Linked DNA regions of Homo sapiens: all the other regions are reported to be linked to region 1. The links are microRNA targets in miRTarBase. Many come from high-throughput screens and were not tested one by one. Region 1 holds a microRNA gene; each other region holds the end of a gene's coding sequence. Distances are between the middles of the regions.

Region 1 (7,119 bases):
AGAAAGGCAGGTGCATTTCAGTCTGTAACTGGTACGACCCCTGCAGATGTTTGAAGGAAGATTTTGAGGAAGGTGCTCGCACCCTTGCATTGGGAATGCTGATGAGTTAGCGCCTCTACTTCACAGTGATTTCCCCAAAAGATGAGCTGCAAGGCCTAGACCCTGGCCCTCCACCCAGGACCTGCGGCGAGCATCATCACCGTCTGAGAATCTTTGGGTGGGCTGGAAGTTGATGTCAAGCTGTCCAGCCTTTCCGTCACTCTCCATTCAGAGGCAGGTCTGCGGAGAGAGATAGGAGGGACAAGCTGGGGACAGCATTTTTGGAAAGCAAACAGAAAAGAAGCAAAAACTGTTCCTCTAAAATAGAAAGGAGGCTTATGTGTGTTATGTGAAGGATAATGTGGAAGGCTATTTCCAAAGAATTTCTCAAAAAATGACGTGAGCCATGTCAGCATCATTGAATTTAGATAGAGGCCAGGAGCAGTGTGGCATCGTGCTGGGGCCACCAGGCTGGGGACTGGACAGATGATGGTTTCACCTCACCCCTGCCACCTCCTTGCTGCGTGTCATTGGAAGATCACTCAACCTTTCTTAGGCTCAGTTTTACCATCTGTAAAATGGACATAACTTCACAGGCTGGTGTTGTTTGTTTTGAGCATTGCTTCTTGGACTAAACCTGGATATTTTTTCCTTCCCTCCCTCGCTTCTGCACTTCCTCTGGTTCTTTGCCTCCCAAGAAGCCTGTTTCCTCCTGTTCCCTCCAAAACTCCAAGTTTTGAGTTCCCCCTTCCTGGGAAGGTCCATTCGTCATGTTCTATTGACTCTCTTGTTCCCAATTATTCCCTGCAAACCTGGTTCACCCAGTGTATTTGAAGAGCATCTACTGAGCTAAATGGGAGTTATTGGGGGTCAGTTCCTGTTTTCTTTTTAATAAGGGGAGGGAGGGTCTGTGCAGAGCTGTCCGGGAGAGCAGAGGGCATGGGGGACAGGGGGGATGTTGCAGGACCCAGTGGGACCACAGCTGGGACCTTGCCCTGTAGCTGGCTCAGTGTGCCAGGGGATAGGGGCACAGAGCCCTGGTGGGTCTGGGAGATGAGCTTGGGAAGGACTTGGCCTGGACATGGGCTAGGCTGCCCTGCTTTCCGAGCCAGACCTCAGGAGATGGCAGAGAGGGCCGCTTCCTCTGTGAGGGCCGTACATGATGGCCCTTGGGCTGTATGGTGGCCTTGTGACATGCAGCCACACCCCTGGGGAGACCTTTGAAGCATCTCTGCATTCTGGAGGATCTGCTGGGAAGATGGCTTCGCAGCGGGGCTCTTGTTGATGCTGCCAAGAAGGCCGGGTGGGAGTCGGGCTGTCTCTGGCTGGGGGTGGGGTGGGGGCTGCGGTCCATCCGAGTGTGGAAATCCACGTTTCTCTGGTTTGTGCAGACCTGTGCAAGCAGCCATGCTGCAGGACTGGCCCCCTGGAAGTGGGGCATACATGAACTCAGGGTGTGGCGTTGTAATCAAATGAAATGTACAGCATAATTAATCTGGCATACCCTTAATGATATGCATAATTGTGCTGCATGGTAATTAGGTGTAAATGGTAAGCAGTTCACATAAATGTTTTTGTAATTGGTATTAATTTTGCAGAGGCAAACCAAGTTTATGTGGTTTTTCTCTTCTTGCTCTGTTAGTTTTCTAGTACAGGCATTTCCAAGCTTTTGGAGGAATTCTATTGCAAATGTTTGTTTATAGGGCAATGTTTTGTGTTTTCTCTCAGAACAATGTTATGAATGGTTATGAGGTTCCCAAGCTGGTTTCCAAATGCCTCTTTGGCCCATACAGTAGGTGAAATGTGCAACGCGTGTGCCTGTGTCGGAAGGCCCGCCCAGCATCCTCTGGCTCCAGGTGCCCCAGCGTGTGCAGCATGAGGGGGGCTGTGTGCGTGTGTGAACCTGTGCGCCTGGGTCATCTCTGCATTTGTCTAGGTATATCTCTGTGTGTGCATCTATGTGTGTTTGTATCTGTGTGTCTGTGTGTGTGTGTGTGTGTGTGTGTGTGTGTGTGTGTGTGGGGTCTGCATGACTGTGAGAGACTCCTGAGGCCACAGTGGCAGGTAGACATTCTCTGGTAAATACATTCCCCATTCTAGTGGCACGGGGCCTGGGCTGGAGACTTAGGGGCATCAGCTGGGAGGGGGAGCCTGGCACAGCAGCCGTTCCTAGGAGTGAGCACAAGCCACTCTGAAGTGTGGTCTGAAGCCAGAGTCTAGGTTTCCTAAGAACATATGGCTTGCCTTTCTTTCTGATCAAGCACATAATAATTTTTAAATGATCATTTATTGAGTACCTGCCACGTGCCAGGCCCTATGTTAAACACTTGACTCAGATTCCCTCCTATCTTAAAATAGACTTATGAAATAGGGACTCTTTCTCACCCCGCTTTACAACTTGGGAAACTGAGGCCCGAATCTCTCAGTGACAGAGCCAGGGTTTGAGGCAGGGACTGCTGGAGGCAGGGCCCATGGTTCTGAGATGTGCTGCTCAGAACCCTGGGCTCTTCTCCCTCCCTCGGCCCCCTCCACAAATGGTTTGTTTTTGTTGGGACAGACGATGAGGAGAAAGGCGGCCCTGTGGGAAATCTGAGAGCAGCGAGCTCCCTTCCTGCTGAATTGGTTGGGGTGGTGGGGGACGAGCTCCAACAGCCGCTCCCAAGCCCTGAAGACCCTTTGGGGGACCTCCTGGTTTTGACCCAAGAGGGAGCTGGTTTAGGAAGTGGGGTTGGGGGACTGTGGCCATGGACGGTGTGGGGAGAGGGTGGTCACAGGCCAGACAAGGACTCAGCCCCCCTGATTCCTGTGGTTCACTGATAGCCTAGGCCCTCACCAACCCCTTCACCTTGGGGATCTGGGGCAGGTGAGCCTGCAGACCCACAGCAGGTGTATGTTCTGCCCTCGGAGCTCCTGCAAACAGCCTTTCCACTGACGCAGTGCCTTGGGGGCTCTGCCAAGCGACCCCTAGAATGGGGATTGTGGGGGGTCGCTCTAGGCACCGCAGCACTGTGCTGGGGATGTTGCAGCTGCCTGGGAGTGACTTCACACAGTCCTCTCTGCCTCCAGGGTCACCCGGAACGGGGTTGCGGGGGACAAGCTGTGGGCGGGGGGGACGGGCAGCAAGATACAACGCATGAACTCTGACCTCGTCTCTTTGAGAAATCAGACACATCTATATACGCATGGAACACTCAATGACCCCTGGGTGGGTGGTCGAGGAGAAGGGGACGGTGTTTTGGGGGAGGAGAGATGTTGGGTTGAAGGACTGGGAGAGAGGAGCTGAGTGGGCCCTGTGGGAGAGGGTGGGAGCCAGGGGTGTCATTCCGGGACAGCAGCCGGGCCTGGAATGATGCAGCTGGGAGAGGTGGGGGCACGGCCAGAGCAGTGGGCGGAGGCTGCGTTGTAGCCAGCCCTGGTGAGACCAGGCCAGAGCGTATATTTTACCACGTGTGCAAATCTTTGGCATCACCGGATTTTTAAAAATAATAGCTTTAAGATATAATTCACATTCCATACAGTTCACCCATATAAGTGTACAGTTCGATGGTTTTAGTACATTCACAATCAACTTTTTAAAATTGTCATGAGGTGTCATAGGTTTTCATAGAGGGAGCCATGTGTGGGCAATCCTTGCTGATAGGGTGGGGTGGGAGGTAGAGATGCCAGAGGCAGGTGGACCCGCTCCAGGGCATCTACCAGGTTATTGTGCCACAGACACAAGAGGTACAAAGGGCCTGGAGGGAATAGGGGGACGAGAGAAGCCCAAGGACCAGGTACCTGCTGGATGTGAGGACCCAGGGGAAAGGTGGGACCTGAGTTTTCTCCAGGGTTTGGGACTTAGGCAGCTGAAGGGAGGGGAATGTTACTTCCACATAGAGGGAAAAACCAGAAAATAGAGCCGGCTCTGAAAGAAGCATGTTCTGGAAGAGTAGGATTTTAGGGACTGCAAGTCATCCAGTTGGGATGAAAATAAATAGAGCTGGAGCCCCTGGCAGTAGGAGGCGTATGTTAACTTATGCCCAGGTGTCTTAGAGGAAGAGCATTTAGAGAGAAGCTGAAGGTAGAACATGACCTTTGAGGAGCACCCACCGTGCAGAAGTGGGATCAAGACTCCCGGACAGCCCCAGAGACAAAGCTGCAGAATCTGAGGCTGGAGACCCAGAAGCAAGGAGCCAGATGGAGTCATGGCTGGGAGAGAACACACAGAAGGCAGTTGCTGGTGAGCTCCAGAAGCAGGGGTCTCCTTTCACTCCAGGGCCCGGCTCCACAATGGCACTCAAGAAATGGCTGTTGAGTGAGTGCTTGAAGCAGGGAGTGATTAGCTGGCCAGGATGTTGAATTGAGCTCAAGGGCCATGAGGATGGAAAAAAGCCCTTTGGGGCCGCGGGTGACTGTATCAGTCAGGGTCCATTCAGAAGACAGAAACCACATGGTGATTGGAACAAGGAAAGTTTCACATAACGAATTATTAACTCTAATTGGATTGGAATAATGAGGAATTGGCTAGTAAGAAGTAAAAATAACTCCAAAGAATACAAAAATAATAGATATGAGAACAGCCCCTACCTCTAGGGTTGCCACAGAGTGCCCAAGGAAGAGGCCCCGCAGGGTTGAGATCCACACCTTGATGGAGAGGGTGTGGCGATGGCTCCCTGGATGGCAACGTCTCTGTAATGCCATGTTGGCAGAACTTGCTGGAAATCCACCCTCTGGAATTTACTGGAAATCCATCTTTTTGGGTCCCAAGGAAAGTTGTTTGTGGGAGGTATCTTGCTGGAAGCACACCGCTGCTACGTTTTCCCAGGGGAGTGCTGGGAGAAGCTCCTGGCTGTTGGGTACTCCTGACTGACGTGTTGCTGGAGCCAGGTGCTGGAGAAGCTGTCTGCATTGCAACAGCCTGGCACTCCTGCAGGAGCTGGGCACTGGAAAGCTGCATGCTGGAGAAGCTGCAGCAGCACAGGAGCTGGGTGCTGGGAAGCTTCATATCTGGCAAGACCCTGATGCTGGGAAGCGCCCATGCAGCAAGATCTGGCTGCTAGAGAAGTTGTATACAATGCAGGAACCCAACAAGAGCACACTGGGTCTAGAAAGGAAACCCACCTCCTCCTTCAATGCCTCTTCAGTGCCCTCCACAGTTGTGCCAGCTGACAAAGGAAAAGTAGTTAAAGGGCCCAGCTCCATCTTCACAGCACAGGCAATGATGGGCGAATAAACTGATAACTGGCACAGTTTACCCCTTTGGCTGCACAGCTTCCATTTGCACCTTTCTACAACATCTGAACTCCCATACAAAAACAAACAACTGGATGTCTACCTATCAAGATAGTTATCCTTCTTATGAAATTCTCACCCTTTTGCCCAGAGAGCCCCAACCATCATTCTACCAATCCCTGGCTACAATAACTTCTCAAAGTCAGTCACAGTCTCACTGAATATTCTGTTACCTAAAGACTACATTATAAAGCTAACTGTCAACAACTTGTATAGAAAAGAATGGGAAGGAGAAAAAAAGAAGAAAATGGTTACCATATTGCAAACACACCACACACACACACACACACACACACACACACACACACACACACATATATATCAAGTTAATAGAAAATGTGCAAAACCACTAGAGGCCTGGTTTCTGCATTTGTTCACAAGGCTACACTTTACACTTGCTACCTGGCTTCATTGTCTTCTTATCCCATTCTGTGTTTCCTCCACACTCAGCCAGAGCCTTAGCAGGTCATGCTTCTTTTACTTGGTGGAGTAACCCAAACCCTCATTCCCAAAGGACCTGAATCCTTAGTTATCCCGCTTTTGTTGTTGTTACCATAACTTTCCATTCAGCCTTCCTTTGGGCATGGACGTTCTTAAGAGGTGCCTGAGAGAATTCGCTGGGTTCCAGACACAGTCTTGCTTGGCTCTGTGGCTGATCAGCAATCCAGTTTTCTCCTTGGTAACTAGGATCAATCACTCCAGACAGTGGCATAACTCCTTTTTTCCACTGTCAGTTCAGTGGCGTAAGGAGTTCGAGAAAGCCAAGTGGGTGTGTGTGTCTTCTCTCCCAGGGAAAGCATTATAATATGTCCCTGGTGGGAGCACTCTCCCCCGAGGACGAGGTCAGCATCCCCAGAAGGTTTTAGAGTTGTGGGGTGGGGAAACAGGGCCACGCGCAGGGGACTAAGTGATAGAGGCTCTGGAGCTGGCAGCTGTGGACCATGCTGTAGAGAAGGTTGGAAAAGTAGAGAAACATGCAGATGACCGTGGGCCGCTTCCGCTGTGGATGATAAAATCAGACCCATGCTGGTCACTGCCAGACCCCATCCAGGACCATGTGTCTGATTCTCACATGGACTCTGTGCCACCCTGTGCCCCTGACTCCCAGGCCGTGGGAAGCCCATCTGACCCACAGCACGTGTGACCCCTAGACAGGGCTTCTCCTGGCTTGCAGCACTTGGAAATCGGTGCTGCCTTACGGAAGTCTGTGTTGGCTCATTTTGGCTCCTGAGAACAACTTCAGCTCCTTAACAGCATCTATTTTAGGTATAAATCCCCCCCCCGCTCACTTTTGGGGCTGTGTCATGGCAACCATTAGTGTGAGCAAAGCAGTCTGACTCAGACTCCCATGTGGCCGCCGTAGTGGCAGCAGGTTTGGTGTGATCATAAGTGCTCCTGCTGGTGGTGCCAGTGCTGGTGGTGCCAGTGCTGGTGGTGCCATGGCCTCGAGAGTGGTGTGAGAGCCACAAGCCGTCTTATTGTGACTCTAGAGCCAGATAAATCAGCTTTGCAGAGGGCAGGACTGCTGGCCTGTCACCAGTGGCTTTTGGTATTCTATGGACAGCTGGTAGTTTGGGTGCAAGTAATGTTTCTGAAAGTCAGGGCAATGGAATGGTGATGGCCATCTCACTGGAAAATGGCACCAAGACCCCCCTCCCTCTCCCTCCTCCTTATCCATCCCCAGTCTTATGACCAAGAGAGGTTGTGACAGGAGGGGGAAGAGTTGACAGATAGACATCTCCGTCTAGGAGGTCTCCTCCACTTTCTCCTGGCCCCTAGCTGACCCCTACCCTAGCAGATGATTGGGCA
Region 2 (7,119 bases), not on the chromosome of region 1:
ACCTCCGCTTCTCAGGTTCAAGCGGTTCTCCTGCCTCAGCCTCCCCTGCCACACCCAGCTAATTTTTTTGTACTTTCAGTAGAGACGGGGTTTCACCATGTTGGCCAGGATGACCTCATGAGCTGCCTGCCTCAGCCTCCCAAAGTGCTGGGATTACAGGTGTGAGCCACCTGGGGATTCTTTTTACAGCAACATTTTGCATTGAGATTTGAAGTCTTACAGATTTTTATGATTATCTTTGCTAAGAAATGGTTGTGAGCTATATTTTACTTGCAAGTAAGTTCAACTACCTTTGATTCATGGCAGAAAATTCCTTTGGGACTGTAAAGTTTTCCAGCGCTTCATGGTATTGGCGTTCAGCAGCAGTGGGACCATGGTCATAGGTGACGTGCCCTGGCCCCTTGTGCTGGTCATTAGGGATACAGCTCAGTGTATCTCATGAACTCAACCGTGGTGCCTTCTGAGACTTTAAATTCAAATTATTTGTATACTCTCTTGTTCAGTGATTCTTAAAAGAATTTGTTTTGTTCCCAAATGTCTTCTTTTTAATTGTTGTAGAAGAAATGAGGAACAAGTGAAAAGTTAATGAGCAAAAAAAAAAAAAAAAAAGTTGGTTTATGTTTGCATTTTTAGAATGTAATTTGAAAAATTACTCCTCACTAAAGGTAGTCGTTTTTTGCTATATATAAGCGGCAAAAGAAAATTTACTATTTTTTTGCATTAGAGAGACTCCAAGTTGGCTGCAGAAATTTTTCTAGAAAATAAGATAAATCTGATGGGAAAACTAGTAATCGGATATCATGTTGTGCAGCTGACTTGTTAGAAATCCTTTGACTCCCCAATAATTCGTGAACTCAGAGAGCTGAAAACATACAAACCACACCACCCCATGCATCTTTTTTTGTCTTAGTCTTTTCTGCTCTGTGTTTCTCTTGGTATGGTGCACTATAATTGGCTCCTATAGAGAGAAAATAGCAAGTGAATCCCAGGACATATTTTTCTCTGCACAGAAAATATGAGTTAAGCCAAAGTAAACAAATTGCTTTCACTACTCACCAGATAATAATTGTATTTTGTTTTTATTTTTAGGAAATTCATACCGAAGTGCAGCAAGATTGTCATTGACTTTGATTCAATTAACAGCAGACCGAGTCAAAAGCTTCAGTGAGTTACATCTCATTCAATCTCCAGAAGATTGGGATTATCGTCTTCTAAGAGGTTGCTAATGCCTTTCATCTTGAAGTTACACATAACTTCTTACTAGCCAGTATGGCAAAAGTAGGCATCTAAAGAATATAAAGCCTCAAATCTTCCTTACTGTCTCTCTTGTCACATGGAATCTACATGTGTTTGAACTATTGCTTTAGGGTTTAAAATAGGGGAGCCTGTGGTGGCCTGGTGCACAGGGCTAGAACGAGAGTGCCTCCCCTTCTTGTGTCCTGGCTGGCTGGGATGCTGGTGGCTCTTCAGAGGAGCATCAGCTGTCTGTCATCTGCTGCGATCCGGCAGCCTCTCTTCACTGCTACATGTGCTGGAAGGACAAATAAATAATTGTGGTTGTGTTCTTAATGGGGACGAGCAGACACACTGATCTGAACATCTGGCCCAAGTGAAGCATGGCATATAGTGCCCTTGGAAGAAAATTAGGCCTCAAATGACAGTAGCATTGAAGTGTTTGCTGCAGAGTTGAGGGAAACCCCCAGCCACCCTCCCGGAATCCGAGATAGGGTGGCACATCTGTCCTGACAGACGAGGAGTGTAACTGAACCAGGAATATTTCCTCCATTCCTGCTCTCCCACTGCACACAGGGTGGTGGCACATTATCCCTCTGGGGGGTGGGGACGCCTGTTGTTTTGGCTCAATTTGGGTTTGTTGGTCACATGGAGCTCTTCCATTTCGTTTAGCTGAATAATGAGTTGTTCCTAGAGGAGACAGCCTGTCTCTCCTTGTTGCCCCCAAAGCCCATGCCCTGCCGTGGTGGCAGCTGGGGCTGTGGATGGGAGGGGTCCCCAACATGGATGTGTTGCCCCTCCTCCGCATGCCAACGCAGTTCATGTACAAGGCCCCTCTGCAACTGGAGAGAAAATTAATTCCTATCCCGTGAGTGGATTGTGAGAAATTCCACCCACGTGGAGACAGCTTACTGCAGCACTGTTGGTGTTCGGAGCTCTTCTGTGCCCTGGCTCCATGCTTTCACCTACACAAGCATCACCTTCCTAATCACCGCGGGGCGGGGAGCGTGTGGCTGTGCCCCTTCTCTTTAATCTCATTTAATTTTTATTAAACATGCTCAGTACCTGTGTTGAGAAAAGGCTTTCTTTATCCTAAAGATTATTACCTTTTTAAAGTGCTCTTATATTTTCATGAGTTTTTATTTTGTCTCTGAGATTTTGTATTCCACATTCTAGGGTATTCTGTAATTTGGCTCCTTACCAATATTATTAAAATCTTATTAAAATCTACCCTACCAAAGCATGTACATTTTTATGTTATTATAATTATATGCTTAATTTTCTGCTCCTGTCCTTTCTGTATTGTCTCCGAAGCATATTACATATGTTTTAATGCTCAAAGAATAATTTGAGATGCCCAAGCTGTGTGCGTTCCCCAGGGTTGATGTCTGGGGCTGCTTTATGGATCAGATTTATGTAAAATGCGAAGGCAGCCGCTAGCCCTACGCTCTCTCCTGTGTACCCTGCCCCTGGTCCCAGGTGTGGCCATCTATCTGGTAGGGCCCAGGCCTCTGTCCTCCCGGAAGGCTTCAGTCCTGAGTTCTGCCCTTTGCTGACTTCTCACCTTATCCTCTTTCCAAGTCTCTCTTCTCTTCTCTCCTAAATTTCCTTCTCTTTTCTCCTCCAAACTCCTCGCCCTGTGTTTGCTCCAAAATACATAAAACAAAAGGTATGTGGAAAAAAGAATCAGTAGACTTAAAGGTAGAAAATTAGAGATTTCTCTATTGCCGCAAGTCACAAGAGTTGTGAGTCCTGTTAGGATGGAGTGTGTCATTTTCATCACATCACATTGATAAATATGTCTAGGGGCTGATAAGCCAGTAGGGCATCTAATTTATGTAATTTTGATACTATCTTATATCTTGTCTGGTTGTTACATTCAGTTTCAGTGAAAAAAAATTGACTTTTTTCTTTTTCTGTCTTTGAGGGGAGGTTGACAGGAAGGGTCCTTGCTAAAAGGGGAGTCCTGGTACTGAGGTCAGTTGTGGGTGTTTATTTGGGGGCAGATGCTGTCGCTGGGGGGTTGTGATGCTTCCACCTATGAACCGACCCTGGTCTCCTGGTGACTGGAGTGTGAGTGATTATGTCTTCGTTTCTAGGATCACTATAAGAATAGTAGAATTGTCCTATCCAGAGAATTCTGCAGATGTTCATGTTCCAGTTAATAGAGGTTTGCTTTGAACTGGTGCCTTGGGGAGAAGCTTTCCAGAAGGAGGGAGTTTTGTGCAGTCTTTTGCCTCGCAGGCATTACTAGATAATTGTGGTGAAGGGAGACTGTATCTGAGCCAATGTTGCTGCCTGTCATGGCTAATAAATGACAATAAGGAAACCATCTTTCACTGAACCGTTGGTAGAAGGACTACATTTAAAAGGCAGAATTTGTGAGTGAAATGATAGGAACTCCATTTCCCTGACACATTTTCTGCTTTCTTCCCTTTTACTCTTTTAGCAGTCTGTCCTTAAAGACTTCTGAAGCCTGACAAGACCCAGCAGTGAAAGTGATCTAATATATTAGCCATCTTTTCCTAAATTAAAAATGAAGCAAAATAAGAGAACAAGCATACAAGCTGAGCTCATGAATACAAATGTAGGCTTGCAAGCCCGGTGAGCTGAAGTTCCTGTGGCCCTGGTGTAATTTTTGATCTTCCAATGTCTGTATCTACCTGAGGATTAAAAATATTTAGGTTGTTGCAAAAGGGCCTGAGGAATGCAGGGAGGGAGTTTTCTCATTGGCGAGGCTGATAAGAAGTTTTAATATTTATAGTTCACTTTTGTTGTTGTTGTTAAAGTAAAGCCACTCTAAAAATGGTAGTTTCTACAAATCATTAGCCAGGAAGCCTGTCTAAAGCTCCAGGGAAGGACCAGAACTCAAGGTGGGGGTGCTTTGCAAGCTCTCTTGTCAGGGAACCGTGATGACTAGAGTTATGGATTACTGGCTGCAGAGGTGCCGGCAAAATAACCCTGGGCCCAGGAGTCACATTTAGAGCAGGGTGCCCCAGAATTGTTCTGGAGATACCTTTAGCTAGCTCGACTTTTATTTCGGAACTGTTGGAAGAATCTAAAGCCATTTCATCGTGAGGGTATATGAATCTCAAATAGTTACTGAGTACCTACCAGGTATTGGGTTCTCTGATGGCTCTTGGGTGAGAGTTAGAACAGAGTGGATAGCTAGATATTAGACAAGTTCCTTAGATGAAGCCCAAACTTGCCACCCGCATCCCTGAGCCGTGCAGGTGCCACCTGTACTTTATTTTCTGTGTGATTGGGTTGTCTATTATTTTGTGTCTGTATCCATTGGAGTAAGACCCTGGGGAGAGGGCAGGGACCAGACACGAAGTCCGCAGGAGCTGGGTTCTTACCCTGATTCCAAGGCCGAAGACTTTAAAAAATTCTACAAGTCCTGGCCGGGTGTGGTGGCTCGCACTTGTAATCCCAGCACTTTGGGAGGCTGAGGCAGGCGGATCACCTGAGGTTGGGAGTTCGTGACCCGCCTGACCAACATGGAGAAACCCTGCCTCTACTAAAAACACAAAATTAGCCAGGTGTGGTGTCGTGTGCCTGTAATCCCAGCTACTCAGGAGACTGAGGCAGGAGAATTGCTTGAACCCGGGAGGTGGAGGTTGCGGTGAGCCAAGATCGCGCCATTGCACTCTAGCCTGAGCAACAAGAGCAAAACTCTGTCTCAAAAAAAAAAAAAAAAATTCTACAAGTCCTTCATTAAATTAAAATGAGTTCAGTATTTCCCAAGAAAATCAGGGGAAGGGTTCTCTGTTGATGAAAGAAAAGCATACCGTCTGCTCACCGCTCGGGTGTGGAGCCCGAGGGTCTCAGGCCTGGGGCCTGAAGAAAGGTATTGCCCTTATTTTTGGTAGCCAACTGCCAATCTCTTCTCTGGAGCCCACTTTACAACTTCGCTTGGCTGCTGCCATTCTTAGCCATTTTTAAGATCAGTGGTATTAATTACATGCGTGTTGTGCAGCCATCACCACCATCCATCTCCAGAGCTCTGCATCTTGCAAAACTGAATCTCCATACCCATTGTACAGTAATTCGGTCTTCCCCCTTCCCAGAAATGACAACCACCATTCTACCTTCTGTATGAATTTCACCACTCTCAGTACCTCATATAAGTGGAATCGTACAGAATTTTCTCTTTTTGACTGGCTACTTAGCATCATGTCTTCAAGGTACATCCAGGTTGTAGCCTGTGTCAGGATTTCCTTCCATCTGAAGGCCGAAGAATCGCCCATTGTGTTCACATACTGCCTTTTGTTTAGCCATTCACGCACCAATGGACACCTGGGCCGCTCCCATCTTCTGCAGCCATCCTTTCCTGAATGTGCAGTGTGCCTCGCCAACCTGGCCCCGTCTGCCTCAGCCACCCAGCGGCCTTCCTCCCTGCACCAGTCACCTACCTTGAAGGATTTTTCTTTTTTAAAAATCAACATTTTTTTTCCTTCTTTTTTTTGAAACAGGGTCTCACTCTGTCGCTCAGGCTAGAGGGCAGTGGCGTGATCATATCTCACTGCAGCCTCAACCTCCTGGGCTCAAGTGATCCACCCACCTCAGCCTCCCAAGTAGCAGGAACTATGGACATGCATCTCCACACTAATTCCCTGGCTAATTGTTATTTATTTTTTATTTTTTGTAGAGACGGGATCTCACTGTGTTGCCCAAGCTGGTCTCAAACTCCTGGGCTCATGTGATCCTCCTGCTTTGGCCTCCCAAAGCGCTGGGATTGCAGGCGTGAGCCACTTTGCATGGCCTAAACCCAGCATTTTTAAGAGCCTCTTCCTGTGCTCCCTTTGACCATCCACAGTTTCCATGCATGTTTCAACACTGAGTTGGATCCCGCCCTCTCTGTAAAGTCTCCCCAGACCTTCCTGAGCTTGAAGTGATTTTTTCTTCTTTGAAATCCTGCAGCAGTTATTGTCAGCAACTGTCTTTCTGGCAATGAATCGTGTACTGTTTTATGATATCTCTTCTACTGTCTAGAACTGTTACTGAAACATGTCATTTAACTTTTCATATGTATCTTGTCCTGCTCTAACGAGGTTGGAAACTCCACAGAGCGCATGTGGCATCCTGTGTATCTTGGTGCCTGGCTACCATTTCTCTCCATGTCTGCACGGGACCCTATGCAGAGGGGCTTCATACACATTTTTAATATTTCCACTTAAAAGTTATAAACTTGATTGCACTTTAATTCAGTGAGGTAGCTGAGCAGGAGCCAACCTCCTAAATTATTTTTTCCATGCTGATTTCTTTGTGAATGGCTTGAAAAAAATTGTCATCTGGAATGTAAGAGAAAGAAATCTTCCTGTTAGCAGCCAGGGCTAATGGGCACATTTATCTTTAAGAGAGACAGGAGATTACTGTTTAAATGTCTTATTTTTGACTTCTGCGTTTCAGTTAAAGCATTCTTATATATGGGTTTGAATGAGGAATTTGGCAATAACAGACACTCTTGGCAGAACACCCAGAGACGATGTTTCCACTGAAACCCATCCGATTAGTGGATTTCTTGACCTTTCCAGGTCTTAAATCACTGTTGAATGCTTTCTGTTGTAGGAGTTCTGTATGTTAACTTTTGTTAATGAAAACTGTTAGAAACTTAAACATGCCATTTGGTCCAGGTTTTAAATGGGCATTCTGTTCTGGAATTGCTTCCTCTGCAGGGGTGGGCATGGTGTGCAGCCTTTTGATTTATTCTGCCTTTCCCCAGCCTCTGAATAAGTAGGCATTAGTAATGCATGTAGCTGTAAGTAACAGGCCCCTGACTCTCAGTGACTAAACAAGTAGCATATTTTTCCTCACATAACAAGTACGGTGGTAAGCATTTGCTGGAGTTGGGTCAGCTGGTCCATGATGTCTGCAAAGATCTAG
Region 3 (7,119 bases), not on the chromosome of region 1:
CTGGTTCTCCCTCTTTCCTGCTGCAGCCACTGTTCACCAGTCCTACCCACACCATGCCACACAGCTCCATGCCCACCAGCCGCAGCCGGCTACCACGCCTACTGGAAGCCAGCCGCAGTCCCAGCATGCGGCCCCCAGTCCTGTCCAGGTGCCTGCCATGGGGGGTGCTGAGTGGTCCTGGTGCAGGAATGGGTGGCCAGAAGAAGGGATAGAGCTAGGGGTCATTTCTGAGTGGCGAGGACTGGGGGCCAGCGAGTTGCTGGCCTGTGTGGCACTCAACCTTCCCCTCCCCAGCAGCATCAGGCGGGGCAGGCCCCACACTTGGGCAGTGGACAGCCACAGCAGAATCTGTACCACCCAGGGGCCCTGACAGGCACGCCGCCCTCTCTGCCACCGGGACCTTCTGCCCAGTCCCCTCAGAGCAGCTTCCCCCAGCCAGCCGCTGTGTATGCCATCCACCACCAGCAGCTGCCCCACGGCTTCACCAACATGGCCCATGTTACCCAGGTAAGAGCCCAGCTGTCCCACTTCTGGGTCTGTTTGCCAGGGCCCGTCTGCCATGGGGACCATCCCATTGCCAAGTCCCTGGTGCCACCCTTGCCATAGTGCTCCCTAACTCTGGCTCTCAGAGTCTGTTTCAGGATTCTGTGGTCTTCCCGGCTACTTTTTTGTTTTCCACAGGCCCATGTCCAAACTGGAATCACAGCAGCCCCGCCCCCTCACCCTGGGGCTCCCCACCCGCCCCAGGTGATGCTGCTGCACCCACCCCAGAGTCATGGGGGGCCCCCCCAAGGCGCGGTGCCCCAGAGTGGGGTGCCTGCACTCTCAGCTTCCACACCCTCACCCTACCCCTACATCGGACACCCCCAAGGTGAGCAGCCTGGCCAGGCGCCTGGATTTCCAGGAGGAGCCGATGACAGGATTCGTGAGTTCTCATTAGCTGGGGGAATTTGGCATGGAAGAGCTGAGGGGCTGCAGGTGGGGCAGGATGCACGGGTTCTGGGTGGGGAGTGAGGGGTCTTGGAGGCAGGGCTGTCCCACAGGGCGCCCGCCGACCTGCACCTGTCTGTGAAGTATGTAGGGTGGGCAGAAGCCACAGTCGCCGCCGCCAGGGGCTTGCTCCTGGCTCTGTCCTTTGCTTCCCTCCGTCCTCGCTCAGTTGTGATCCAGCAGCCCCCCTCCCCACTGCCTCCCCAGCTCTCAGTGACCCCGACTGTCTCCTGACTTAGCCGAGGTAAGGTCAGTGCAGCAGACAGGGCCAGACTGGGGTGTGGGGGGCTGAGCTGGGCACATGAGTGAGGGCTCTGGCTTACTGGGAAACAGCGATTGACCTGTGCTTCTGACAGCCCCCGAGACACCTTGAGGAGGCCGCTCCTTCCCAGACACACCCCCACGCCCCCACTGGACGGCATTGGAGGAAGGGACAGCTGCTTGGGTTCTAATGCTCCTGCTCTCTTCTCTTTCCCCTCCAACCAGTTCAATCTCATCCCTCCCAGCAGCTCCCCTTCCACCCCCCGGGGAACTGAAGATTGTCCTGGCCGCGACCTGAGACCTCCATGAGTGGAGGGAAGAGTGATCTATGTCTCTTCCCCCAGCAGCTCGGACCACTCCCAGCCCCCCATCCCCCCGTTCCCCAGGGGAGCTGGGGAATTCCTGCCAAGCACCTTGAATGGGAGGGGCCTCACAGAGGGCAGGGCCAGGGTCCAGCAGGGGTGGGGGGTTCCTGCTCTGCCCCTGCCCGTCCCCACCCAGTCTTGCCCTCCCATCCTCTCATCTATTCCCCCGCTGGAGACGGAAGATCTTTTATTTTCTATTATTTATAACTTCAGACTTGGGCCCCCTGTTCTTTCTTTCCCATTAACTTGAGTGACCTGTGTGAGAGACAGACAGATGCCCCACGAGGATGGCTGGACAAGGACTTTTACTTTTTATTACATAAAAATATTAAAAAATAAATAAAAAAAATAAAATTTTAAACTAACTTAACCTGCCTGGAGTTTCCTCCTTGGAGACTAGAGTGGGGTGACAGCTGTCAGTCTTTTGTGGCATTGATAGGTGCTGCATTGTGACCTGTTCCTTCACCTCCATGTAAAAATCGTGTCCAGTGGCCAGCCATGGTGGCTCACGCCTGTAATCCCAGCACTTTGGGAGGCTGAGGTGGGCAGATCACCAGGTCAAGAGATGGAGACCATCCTGGCCAACTTGGTGAAACCCCATCTGTACTAAAAATACAAAAATTAGCCAGATGTGGTGGGACATGCCTGTAATTCCAGCTACTTGGGAGGCTGAGGCAGGAGAATCACTTGAACTCGGGTGAAACCCTGTCTCTACTAAAAATACAAAAATTAGCCTGGCGTGGTGGGACATGCCTGTAATCCCAGCTACCTGGGAGGCTGAGGCAGGAGAATCACTTAAACCCAGGAAGCGGAGGTTGCAGTGAGCTGAGATCACTCCATTGCACACCAATGGTGGCCAGTTTTTGAAATCTAGGATGATGGGGAGCCAGATCGGGATCCTGTGCCATGCATTTGAAGGTGGGTTCCAGACTTCATGTGAAGTTGTGTAGTTGATGACTGAGGTTCTGGATGACCGGATGGCTAAAAGCACGTGAGATGGGAGTCCGCTTCCCAGGATGGGACAGCAGTGGCACAGTTCCCAAGGATGCTGTCCCTGACTGGCTCTGGAACTGCTACATAGATAGCTCACCCAGCTGTCTAGTGACTATTTTCTCATCTTGAACTTGGCTTCATCTCAAGGTGTGATTCAAAGTTTCATTTCTAATATGAGTATCTCATGAATTACATACACCTCTTTATGTTGAAGGGTGAATGTTTATGGTCATTGGAATTAAAATCCTGATGGATGTGCAGCTGACTGTGGATGAGAGCTGTAAAGGTGAAGCTGTTAGTGGGAGAAGAGGGGAGAGGATTGGTTGGGAACTGGGCTTACTGGGGAGCAAGAGCAAAATTAGGCATTATGGGTGGGACAAGAAGATTGAAGCATGGGATGTGGAAATGACAGCAGGCTCCAGAGGAGGTAGTTTTTCAAGGAGGTTGAGAATTCTCTCGGAGACTTGACCTTGGTTTCCTTGCCTAAAATGGAGGTGATTTCACCTTTCCAGGATTTTAAGGAAGTGGCTGGTGCTCAGTGGTAGACGGGTGTTTCAGCTCTCACCAAAGCCAGAGAAAGCTGGCTGAGACCAGGACAGGAAGAGTGAAGGCTACAGTATTGGGGAAGAATCCCAGCATATGCAGATTTGGAACTTGGTAATAGGTGTACATGGTGGGGTGGAGAGAAGGGGTTATTAAAGAGGTTAAAAAAAAAAAAAAAAAAAAGGACTTTATGTGGTAGCCACTTGGATGCTAAAAATGGGCGGGGTTGGAGTCCCAAGAGCACTCAGCAGGTAGATGTGGGGTGGTGCAGGAGCTGCAAGGCTTCAGCTGGGCTCAGGATATTTGAAGTGTAGATGGAGAGACAGGTATCTACTATGAAATATGGCAAGTATTACTGGGTAATCTTTCAATTTTTTTTTTTTTTTTAAGAGACAGAGTCCCATTATGTTGGCCAGGCTGGTCTTGAACTCCTGGGCTCAAGCAGTTCTGCCTTGGCCTCCCAAAGTGCTGGGGATTACAGGTGTGAGCCACCACACCCAGCTGAGTAGTCATTTTGATGCTTTCTGGAAGGACTGCAGATTGTACAGCAGTCCGCCCGCATCTGGGGGGGATGTGATCTGAGATCCCCAGTGGATGCCCATAGTACCAAACCTTATGTATACTATGTTTTTTCCTATAGCTATGATGAGGTTTAGTTTCTAAATTAGGCACAATACTCTTGTGCTTCGGGGCCATCACTGAGTAAATCAGGGCTACTTGAACACAATCATTGGAGTGCTGTAACGGTCAATCTGATAACCAGCACGGCTACTAAAGTGACTAACAGGCAAAGGGATGGTTCACGTCCTGACAGGATGGATGGAGCAGGATGGCAAAAGATTTCATCATACTACTCAGAATGGTGCTCAACTTAAAATCTGAACTGTTAAATAGAAAATTCTAGGCCAGGTGCGGTGGCTCACACCTGTAATCCTAGCACTTTGGGAGGCTGAGGTGGGTGGATCATGAGGTCAAGAGATCGACACCATCCTGGCCAACATGGTGAAACCCTGCCTACTAAAAATACAAAAATTAGCTGGGCATAGTGGCGCATCCCTGTCGGCCCAGCTACTTGGGAGGCTGAGACAGGAGAATGGCTTGAGCCCGGGAGGTGGAGGTTGCAGTGAGCAGAGATCGTGCCACTGCACTCTGGCCTGGCGACAGAGCGAGACTCTGTCTCAGGAAAAAAAAAAAAAAAAAAAGAAAATTCCAGCTGGGTGCGGTGGTTCACGCCTGTAATCCCATACTTTGGGAGGCCGAGGAAGGTGGATTATTTGAGGTCGGGAGTTCGAGATCAGGTTGGCCAACATGGTGAGATGCCATCTCTACTAAAAATACAAGTTAGCCAGGTGTGGTGGTGGGTGCCTGTAATCCCAGCTACTTGAAGGCTGAGGCAGGAGAATCACTTGAACCCGGGATGCAGAGGTTGCAGTGGGCCGAGATCGTGCCACGGTACTCCAGCCTGGGTGACAGACACTGTCTCAAAAAAAAAAAAAAAAAAATTCCAGAAATAATCAGACCAGTGTTGACAGTGGATAACTGAAACCAGGGATAAGGGCAGAGACTACTGTATGTTTACCATCTTTGAGCAGAAATCTCAAAGTTGGAAGGGAACTTAGCCTTCAGCCAGCCAGAAATTCCTCTTGGCAGCCCGTCAGCCTTGCCTTGAGCACTGAGGAGAAGACAAATCTGCCCTGTCATTGGACTTCTTTTTGCAAAGTTCTTCCCTCTTCCTCTTCTCTCACCCACTTCCCTTAGTTTGCCTCTGTTCTGGAGTCAAAAATCAGGTTTTGCATTTTCTCAAAACAGCTCTTAAGTTGGGCCCAAGAGCCCTCCCTTCTGGGAGCTCATCTTAGCCATCCTGGGTGTGTATTCATTTGTCAGGATGCATTTGTGATAGGGGTGCCTGTTAACCTCTGCCGAGCCTTGCTTTGCTTGGTGTCGGCATCCTTGCCAGTCATCACTCCCAAGTTTTTGAAATTCACTCATAGTTTATTCCCTGCATATTAGAGAAGTGGCCTTTTTCTTTCTTTTTTTAAATTTATTTTTTCTTTCCTTTTTTTTTTTTTTTTTTTTGAGAAGGAGTCTCACTGTGTTGCCCAGGCTGGAGTGCATTGGCGCAATCTCGGCTCACTGCAACCTCCGCCTCCCTGGTTCAAGTGATTCTCCTGCCTCAGCCTCCCAAGTAGCTGGGATTACAGGTGCCTGCCACCACGCCCGGCTAATTTTATTTTTAGTAGAGACGGGGTTTCACCATCTTGGCCAGGCTGGTCTTGAACTCTGACCTCATGATCCACCCGCCTCGGCCTCCCGAAATGCTGGGATTACAGGCGTGAGCCACCGCGCCTGGCTATTTTTTCTTTTTTATATAGAAACAGAGTCTCCCTATGTTGCTCAGGCTGCTCTGGAACTCCTGGGCTCAAGGGATCCGCCTGCCTCGGCCTCCCAAAGTGCTGGGATTACAGGCATGAGCCACCACGACCGGCCTTTTTCTTTTCTTTTGAGACAGAGTCTCACTCTGTCGCCCAGGCTGGAGTGCAGTGGCGCAATCTCGGCTCACTGCATCCTCTGCCTCTCGGGTTCAAGTGATTCTTGTGCCTCAGCCTCCTGAGTAGCTGAGACTACAAGCGCAAGCCACCATGCCTGGCTAATTTTTTTTTTTGAGACGGAGTCTTACTCTGTTGCCCAGTCTGGAGTGCAATGGTGTGATCTTGGCTCACTGCAACCTCTGCCTCCCAGGTTCAAGCGATTCTCCTGCCTCAGCCTCCCAAGTAGCTGGAATTACAGGCGCCTGCCACTACGCCTGGCTAATTTTTGTATTTTTAGTAGAGACGGGGTTTCATCATAATGGCCAGGCTGGTCTCGAACTCCTGACCTCAGGTGATCTGCCTGCCTTGGCCTCCCAAAGTGCTGGGATTACAGGCGTGAGCCACCGTGCCTGGCCTCGGCTCAAGTATTTTTAAATCAAGTTTTCTTAGACATTACACACTTAATAAGTTGACCCTTAAGTGATTGGGGTTCAAACTGCACAGATCCACTTACATGTGAATTTTTTCAAATACAAGTTACACCGAGTCTGCCTGTCTCCCCTTTGGCCTCCTCCTAAGAAACGTGAAGACAATGAGGGCCTTTATGATGATCCACTTCCACTTGATAGTGAATATATTTTCCTTATGATTTTCTTAACACCTTCTCTAGTTTTATTGTTTTTTTGTTTTTTTTTGAGATAGAGTCTCGCTCTGTCACCCAGGCTGGAGTGCAGTGGCGCGATCTCAGCTCACCGCAACCTCCGCCTCCTGGATTCAAGCAATTCTCCTGCCTCAGCCTCCTGAGTAGCTGGAATTACAGGCATGTGCCACCACACCCGGCTAATTTTTTTGTATTTTTAGTAGAGACAGGGTTTCACCATGTTGGCCAGGCTGGTCTCGAACTCCTGACCTTGTGATCCACCCACCTCAATCTCCCAAAGTGCTGGGATTACAGGCGTGAGCCACCGCGCCCGGCCACTCTCTAGTTTTAAGAATACAGTATATAATACATATAACACACAAAGTATGTGTTTGTATGCTATCAGCGAGGCTTCTGGCCAGCAGCAGGTTACTAGTTACATTTTGGGGGAGTCAAGTTATATGTGAGGAGCCAGACACGGTAGCTTACACCTCTAATCCCAGCAGTTGGGGAGACCAAGGTTGAGCCCAGGAGTCCAAGGCTGCAGTGAGCTAGGATGGTGCCACCGCACCCAGCCTGGGTGACAGTGAGACCCTATATCTCTTTTTTTCCCTTTGTTCAGCCTCCCCATAGAGACCGTCGAAAATTGCCAATGCTGATTATATTTCAAGTCATCATGGAGTCATTGGCTATGATACTGCCACTGCACAAAGCTGGCCCCATCTCAAAAACAAGTTATATGTGGATTTGTGGCTGCATGGAGGAGGGCTGACACCCCTAACCCCTGCATTGTTCAAGG
Region 4 (7,119 bases), 150 Mb from region 1:
CTACAGTTTCTGCTCTCTCCTAGTGCTGATCAATGGCTTCTTCCGGTTCTAGAGTCTTAGGACAGAAATGCTGCTGATGTAGCTAAACTTAACATTATTATTGTTATTTTTGAGACAGGATCTCTGTGGCCCAGGCTGGAGTGTAGTAGTGTGATCTTGGCTTACTGCAGCTCTGCCCCCCAGGCTCAAGCGATCCTCCCACCTCAGTCTCCTGAGTAGCTGGGATTACAGGTGTGCATCACCATACTTGGCTAATTTTTGTATTTTTTGTAGAGATGGGGTCTCGCCATATTGCCCAGGCTGGTCTTGAGCTCCTGAGCTCAAGAGATTTGCCTGCCTTGGCCTCCCAGAGTGTTGGGAGGCATGAGCCACCACACCTGACCTGAACTTAATCTTTTTTATATGCCCACGTCATCACCTTCTCACAGTTTGGATACCGTTTTTAAAGAACTTGAACAAAATATTCCTGCCTACTATGTATATTCATTGGTAAGAAAAAAAAACTGTCTTAGGAAAATGTTCACTCATATAGAGAGGCTTCCAACATCAGGCTGGATATTTTTTGCATGGACAAGCCTAGGACTGTGCTCCAGTTACACCTATACACACATCAGAGGAAACCAACTGGTCGAAGCTTGAGGTAATGGCAAGCAAAGACTGGTGTGTTTTAAGAACATTCCAAATTTATGGTATTTTACCTCTAGAAGGCCCTTTTTGCTCATTTCCTTTCCTGAGTCATTTTAATCACTAAAACATGACCTCCTCTGCTTTTTGTGTCTTACCACAGTGGCATGGGCAGCTAGGTGGTTATGCTTCAGAATTAGAAAAAACAATCCTAAGATTTCTAGCTTCACATGCTCATGTTTCCTGCTACAATGTAATTGAGTGGATCTGAAAAACTGTAAAACCCCCAAAACTTCCAAGGGTTCACTAGAGCTCCAAAAACTAGGTCAGCCACGTGGCGCTTATACTTAACTCTTGGTGGTGTTTTGTGCTATTGAGTTGAATAAGCAATAGAGGAAAACATTTACATTGTGAAATATGCTATGACTGTATGAAAATATAATCTCTTCAGTAGAGAACAATGAAACTCATAAACCAGGATTTTCCTTGCAATATGTAGTGATGAATTATAATTTTTTAGCTTAGCTCTCTCTTGATTTGGTTTCAATATGTATAAATATCAATTGAGTCGTATCCTTGTATGAGATACAAAACTAGTGAAATATACTTTAAAAATTATTTAAGCATTTGCTGAGAGACCTAATGACTTTAATAAGGCAGAACAGTGATGAAACCAACAAATGTTTGAATTTGTAATGAAAGTATTAATACAACCTTCATTAAAATTGCTAAAGGATTAATTCCCTGATTATATAAAACCAAGAGAAAACAGCAACTTAAGTTTTTTTCCTTCATTACTATTTGGGAAATGTGAAGATGATCACAGCCTGTTTTAGATAAATGGTGAGTGGGATATTTTTACTCAGAACTTCTGAAACCAGATGTGTGGGTTTTTTCCACACCAAATTCTCTAACTCTCCAGACGCCAGCTAGGTGTCCTACAATTCAATTCAGTTCTGACACTCTCTACCTCAAGTTAGTGTCAGATCCTACAAGTTAAAAAACTCAGTTCCACAAAACTGCCCCAATTCAGATGCCAGTTGCAAGTCCCAGGGAACCACCCATACTTGTGCTGAGCTATGAATGAGGGGTTCCTATAACCTCCTCCCCTGGTTTGTTAATTGGCTAGAACAGTTCACAGAACTCAGGAAAATACTTTGCTTATGTTTACCAGTTGATTATGAAAGATACTACAGAACAGCCCAATAGAAGAGACGCACAGGACAAGGTATGGAAAGAGGGGTTGGGGGCTTCTATGCCCTCTGGGTGTGCCCCCTCCTGACACTTCCATGTGTTCACCCACCAGAAAGCTCACCAAATCTAGTTGTTTGTTACAGAGCTTAATCTCTGGGCCTCTCCCTCCCCTTTCTGGTGGTCAATGGAGAGAAAGTTCCAAGCCCCTAATCACTTGGTCTTTCCTATGGCCAGCCCAGAGATAACCTTTGTGAGGCTATCAAAGGGCCCCAGCCTAAGCCACCTCATTAGCATATAGTCTGGTGTACTTACAAAGGATCATTATAAATAACAAAAGACTCTCCTATCACCCTGGAAATTCCAGGGGTTTTAGGAGCTCTAGGCCAGGAGCCAGGACAGAGACCAAATATATATATGCCACAGGGAGATTTTGAGCTGTCAGGTTGAGACCATCCCTTGTTTCAGAATGAGCATCAACTGCATGGGATTGGTTAAAATGAGGTAAGTATGCCAGAATGCAATGGAACTGATAGCATCATCATCTATCCTCATCTGATGCCAGGAAGTTAGGAACTAGTGAGTCCATGGCAGAGGATACTGTAGCTCTTTCATGTGGTGGTGTCCCATTCCAGATGACACTCGCCCAAAGGCACAGGCAGCTAAACATTAGGCTTTTGATTTTTCCAAACAGACTTACACCGGCTCTGTGTGATGTCATTTTATTTGTGTTTTCCTTATCGGTTAAATGAATGTTTAAGGTCAACTTCAAAGTATCAAATGGAATTGTAAGGGTATGACTTGTGAACTCATATTTTTCCCAAAGAAACGCAAAACCATCCACGCTGTCTGGTAGCTTTCTATTGACATCTAGCACTGAGGCATACAGTACTTTAAACTGTGACTAGTCCAAATGGATCCCATGAGTTCCTCAAGAATCAGAACCAATCTTGTTCCAAGTTCTAGCACAGTGCTTGGCACACAGGATCTGTGTACGGAATGAGTAGCAGAGATGCTACAAGGGATGCAGATTTTTTTTTTTTTTTTTAAGATATAATGCAAGTGAGAACTAGATCTCTAAAAATTAGGCTGACAGATCCTTGCTGATGCCAGACTTCTTTGCATTCCCCTCTACCACAATGCATGCTAGCTAAGGGGCAGAACCAACCTGGATGTTCAGTGGGCATGTGATGCATGGTGATGAGATACACGAAGGGCACTACCAGTTCGGCTCAGCTCTAATGGACAAATGTGAGTGTCTTGCAGTTGTTATGGGCAAATCAAGCTATAAAAACACTTTGTGATCTTTTAGTGGACTTGACCATAATCTATAATCAGCTTTGGGGCAGTGCCTGTGAGTTATTTTATTTAAAATGATCAGAACTCAAAACAAAAGATATAAAAGACAAAAAACTAACAAAAAGAAATTAAAAAAAAAAAGAATGATCGGAACCCTGAACCTAATTTATTCAGCAGGCCTCTATTTGAGCTCATCAAGTAACCAGAAACATCTTGATAAATATCCATTCTTCCAATTACAGAAACGTTTTAAATCTCAATTCAGCGAAGGACTACTTCTTCTGGTCAGCTGGTATAACTGGCATTTAAAGACAAAATAATGTAAAAGGGAAGTCTTTGGTTTTGCAATAATTAAATGACATATAGAAAACTGAGAAGATGTAGACACTTAGCATTCAGGGCAGAGTATCTGTAGTGCTGCCAAATCCGTGGGTGATGGTGGAGAGGTTTATTGGTTCCCTCTCTCACTCCTGATTGTGTTAGAAATAGAAACATCTGCCTCATCATAAAAAGTCATGATTTAAGAAATCTCCCACTGGTCATAGAAAGATATGTGTAGAAGATTCTGGTTAATTATTGAGCAAAACCCTCCTTGGGCAACTGGGAATTGTTTCTTCAAGGAAGTGTCACCCAACAGTCCAAGCATGTTCACAGATGAAGTGGCTGTTATTTCTATCTATACATCCTGAGGGTATGAACCACACATCCTTCTGTGTAAAAACATGCCAAGCACATTCTTCAGAGCCAGTAAGCAATAACTTTGTCTGAAGACTTGCTCAGAACTTTCTCTGAACATCTGCTTCCTATTTACTATGACCTTCTGCTCCAAATATACCTCTAATTCTAGTAAGTGCCTGCTCTAAAGTTGAATATCTCTCTTCTCAGGAAAAAATAGTGAATCCATTCTAATAAAGCATACTCCTTTATAACTGAATTTCTCTTTTAAAAAAGTAAAACTCTGTAGAAAACTGACTTCAGCAATGAGCACATAGTAGTCCAATTGGTTTACTTAACCCAGGGACAGATTTCTTTGATCAGATTTCTCAGAAATACGAACTGTGTTTGATGTGTCCAAAGCACTGCCTTGGTGTTTAGTGCCTTTTGGTGGCCTCCATTAAAAAAAAAAACATTCTATGCTATATAAATCTCTGTGCATTATCAATCTATGTACCTGATGTTGCTCAGTGCAGTGGTGTTCTTCACAGGAGACTGGTTGACAGGAGAGCTGAGATGGAATATCTACTGAATAAACCATACTTTTCTCAATATCAAGACTGATGAAAGCATACTATGAATTTCCTACTATAGCCTAGGGGCAAAAATATGAAAACACTCCATATTTTCATTGGTTCCCATTATTTTTGGAATAATCTTCAAAGTTTGAACATGTGTCTTTTATTGTTAAAAATTTGAAAACAGGATGGAACTTTCGTTCTAGAAAGGTGTTCATCTGATAGGCACAGAAACAGACTCTGGAGGGTTGTTGGCTCCAAGCCACACAGGTGGCCAGTGGTAGTACCAGGCCCAGAATCTGGGCTCCTGGCCCCTAGCTGCAGACCCCTTCTCCAGCCACCAGGTTGGCCTCTGGGGCTCATCTCTCAGGCAGCATTGTCAGCTCAATGCATGTTGATGTCATATATTTTTGACAAATCAAATGTTTAGAAGAAGTTACTCTTTTTAGTTAGCCTCTTTCTTCTTCTGAGAGCTCTGGTAGGAACTCCTGCCCAACCTCTCATTAAAAAGTATGTCAAGAAAATATTTTCTAGATTTCTGCCAGAGTAATATAAGAAGAAAAATAAATGGAATTAATGGTTGTTCTAACTGTAAGCAGTTTTAAATGATTATTTTAGAAGCTTATCACTTTTAACAGTAAACAAAAGAGGTCAGAAGAAGTACTCAGTATTTAATAAATGGCCAAACACATTTTCCCGAATATTCTTATGAGAAAAAAGTAAGCTATCAATATTTTTTATTTCTAAAAGCCAATTTAATAAATTAATAAACGCATGCCAGAAAAAATACCAAATTACAACTGAAAACCAATAATAATTTAACAGAAAATGCTGTGTTGTACACTTTTTATTGGTATGGATAACCTTTATTAAAGTAACAAATCTGAAAACACATTTTGCTTTTGCTGGAAAGAAAGTACTATGTTAGAGAAGAACTAAGAGAAACCAGAAATCATTTGTAAAATGTAGGCATGTGATATGGTTTATGGTAATGTAACAGCCAGAGGTGCTGTTTTATCCATTTGTGTGTGCGTGTTTGTACAAGCATCAGAAACCAATGACATAGACCCCAAAAGCAAAGTCACAACAGGCTTACTCTGTGAAACATGCTGGATTACAAGCACAGACTACCCAGGACGCAGAGGCGGTGCAGGCGCAGGTTTGTTGTTTCTTCTGTATGGGGTTTCCTTGCCAGATAGGGGGCTAATCATGCAATAGCTTGAGTTTCTCTGAACGTGATAAACACCCAGGATTACTAGAACCAGAAAGCGTGTGTTCACTGTTTTACAAGACAGCTGAGCGGTGCTACAAAAACAACAGAAAGTTCCTTCACTTTAATCTGGTTATATGCCCAAACCTCTAATCAAGAAATAATGCAGCTACAGGAGCAAATTAAATTACTATAAAACATTCCTTCATCTGTAAAACATTTCTTTTCCCCTCAAATTAAAAATTTAAAATAAAATGTCTTCGTTTTTGATAAGCAGCTCCACCACCAGTCTCTGATACCGTATATCATTCAATGCAGCCATGGCGTCTAGTTCTGGAGATCTCATAAGGGTGGGTCCAAAGACGATTCCAAGGTTCTCTGCATTCATAAGATTCTCCTTTTCGTGGAGGGTCACTCTGAAAAATGCAAGTACAGGAATAAATGACTTTGTGTAAGCCATATGTTCTTCATTGTGCTTGAACACTAAAACAACAAGATTCACAATAAAAGTTTGCGTCCGCTTATCAACTCTTCCACTAGGTTATTTCTCTGTAATTTCAAAGTACTGACTTTCCTTAAAGTAAATTATGTCAAGAGATAATTTAAACTTGTGGTAATCACTGAGGCTCAAGCCTGAGTTAATGTGCTGCACTGTATGGATTCAGTTCTATCTATGGATCCTCCTGCCACAGCCCACCTACAGCCTATAGTTCTAAACCTACATTTGCAAATAGCTGAGAAGGAACTGGGTCACCTTGATTTAATCCACCCACCCTCCCTTCACTCTGGCTGTCTTTGCTATGGAGTAGTTTTGCAAGTAGACAGTTGAGTAAGTGTCTAGGAAGAGAACAGCAGCGACAGTAATAAGCAATGGGTAGGCACCATCGTCAGGGAGGGTATGTGTTTATATGCTTTTTACCACTGCACAGTAACACAGAAAATATGATTTGAGAGTTAGTCCTCTGTTTTAGTGTGGAACACTTAAATACATCCCAACAGGAAGCAATCCTGAGTTTATAAGCGAAGTTGTAAGCACATTAAACAAAGGTTTTAACTCATGGTGCTCTTAAAGAGGAAAAATGTAAACATTCATGAGTGACTAAAATATCATTTTTATATAACTCATGCCTTTGGCCACATACGTATTTTTGTTTCTGATTGGTTTTATACTTTGAAAACCTAAAACCACTAAAACTTGGTCGTGTAATTTGGAAATCTTTGCTTCAACTGATAGAGATCGAGGGTGACCAAGTAGGGAGTAAAGCTGCATGACTATCGCCTGAAAACATCAAACCACAATTAACTGAAATACTTCGTTTTCCATTCCTCCCTTTATCCCTTACTTCTTTACTCCACCACTTTTTACATCAGTTTGCAGTGTTGGCAACAATAATTCAATAATCGAAAATCCTGTCACCAAGTTTGAAGTGCTTTTTTTGGAGCAAGAAGATAGGAAAAGTGAGCTGCCTTGCAAGTTGCAAGTTGCAAGTTGCTTTCTTCTTGCTTTATTATGCAAGTGTCTTTACAGCCACAACTCTATCTTTCCACAAAAATTAGTGCATG

Evidence for each region. Region 1 holds the annotated microRNA hsa-miR-1301-3p (UUGCAGCUGCCUGGGAGUGACUUC, at 3,060-3,083, shown strand). A microRNA usually pairs through its seed, bases 2 to 8, with sites in the 3' UTR of a target mRNA and lowers its output. Matches are read on the target gene's strand: a 7mer-m8 pairs with bases 2 to 8, a 7mer-A1 pairs with bases 2 to 7 and ends in A, and an 8mer does both.
Region 2: the mRNA of DCTD is a reported target of hsa-miR-1301-3p. The part of its 3' UTR that is shown has no 7-base or 8-base seed match.
Region 3: the mRNA of ATXN2L is a reported target of hsa-miR-1301-3p. The part of its 3' UTR that is shown has no 7-base or 8-base seed match.
Region 4: miRTarBase lists CHN1 as a target of hsa-miR-1301-3p. Seed matches in the 3' UTR shown: 7mer-m8 at 5,721-5,727.

The regions. Positions count from the first base shown.
Region 1 is chr2:25,324,615-25,331,733 of GRCh38, reverse strand. It overlaps MIR1301 (microRNA 1301), which reads left to right and starts at 3,013; the gene lies at 3,013-3,094. The region is part of intron 1 of DNMT3A (DNA methyltransferase 3 alpha); the gene reads left to right. RefSeq lists enhancers at 708-1,208, 1,209-1,709.
Region 2 is chr4:182,885,448-182,892,566 of GRCh38, reverse strand. It overlaps DCTD (dCMP deaminase), which reads left to right. Exons shown (of 6, transcript NM_001921.3): 6 at 1,090-2,476. The coding sequence ends at 1,168. Among named protein-coding and RNA genes, the nearest start is that of DCTD, 28 kb to the left of the region's middle.
Region 3 is chr16:28,835,252-28,842,370 of GRCh38, forward strand. It overlaps ATXN2L (ataxin 2 like), which reads left to right. Exons shown (of 22, transcript NM_007245.4): 20 at 27-148; 21 at 298-507; 22 at 682-1,981. The coding sequence ends at 1,014. Among named protein-coding and RNA genes, the nearest start is that of MIR4721, 5.2 kb to the right of the region's middle. RefSeq lists a silencer at 6,592-6,749.
Region 4 is chr2:174,794,316-174,801,434 of GRCh38, forward strand. CHN1 (chimerin 1) reads right to left here. Exons shown (of 13, transcript NM_001822.7): 13 at 4,494-5,972. The coding sequence ends at 5,801. Among named protein-coding and RNA genes, the nearest start is that of CHRNA1, 33 kb to the left of the region's middle. RefSeq lists enhancers at 1,279-2,141, 2,142-3,003.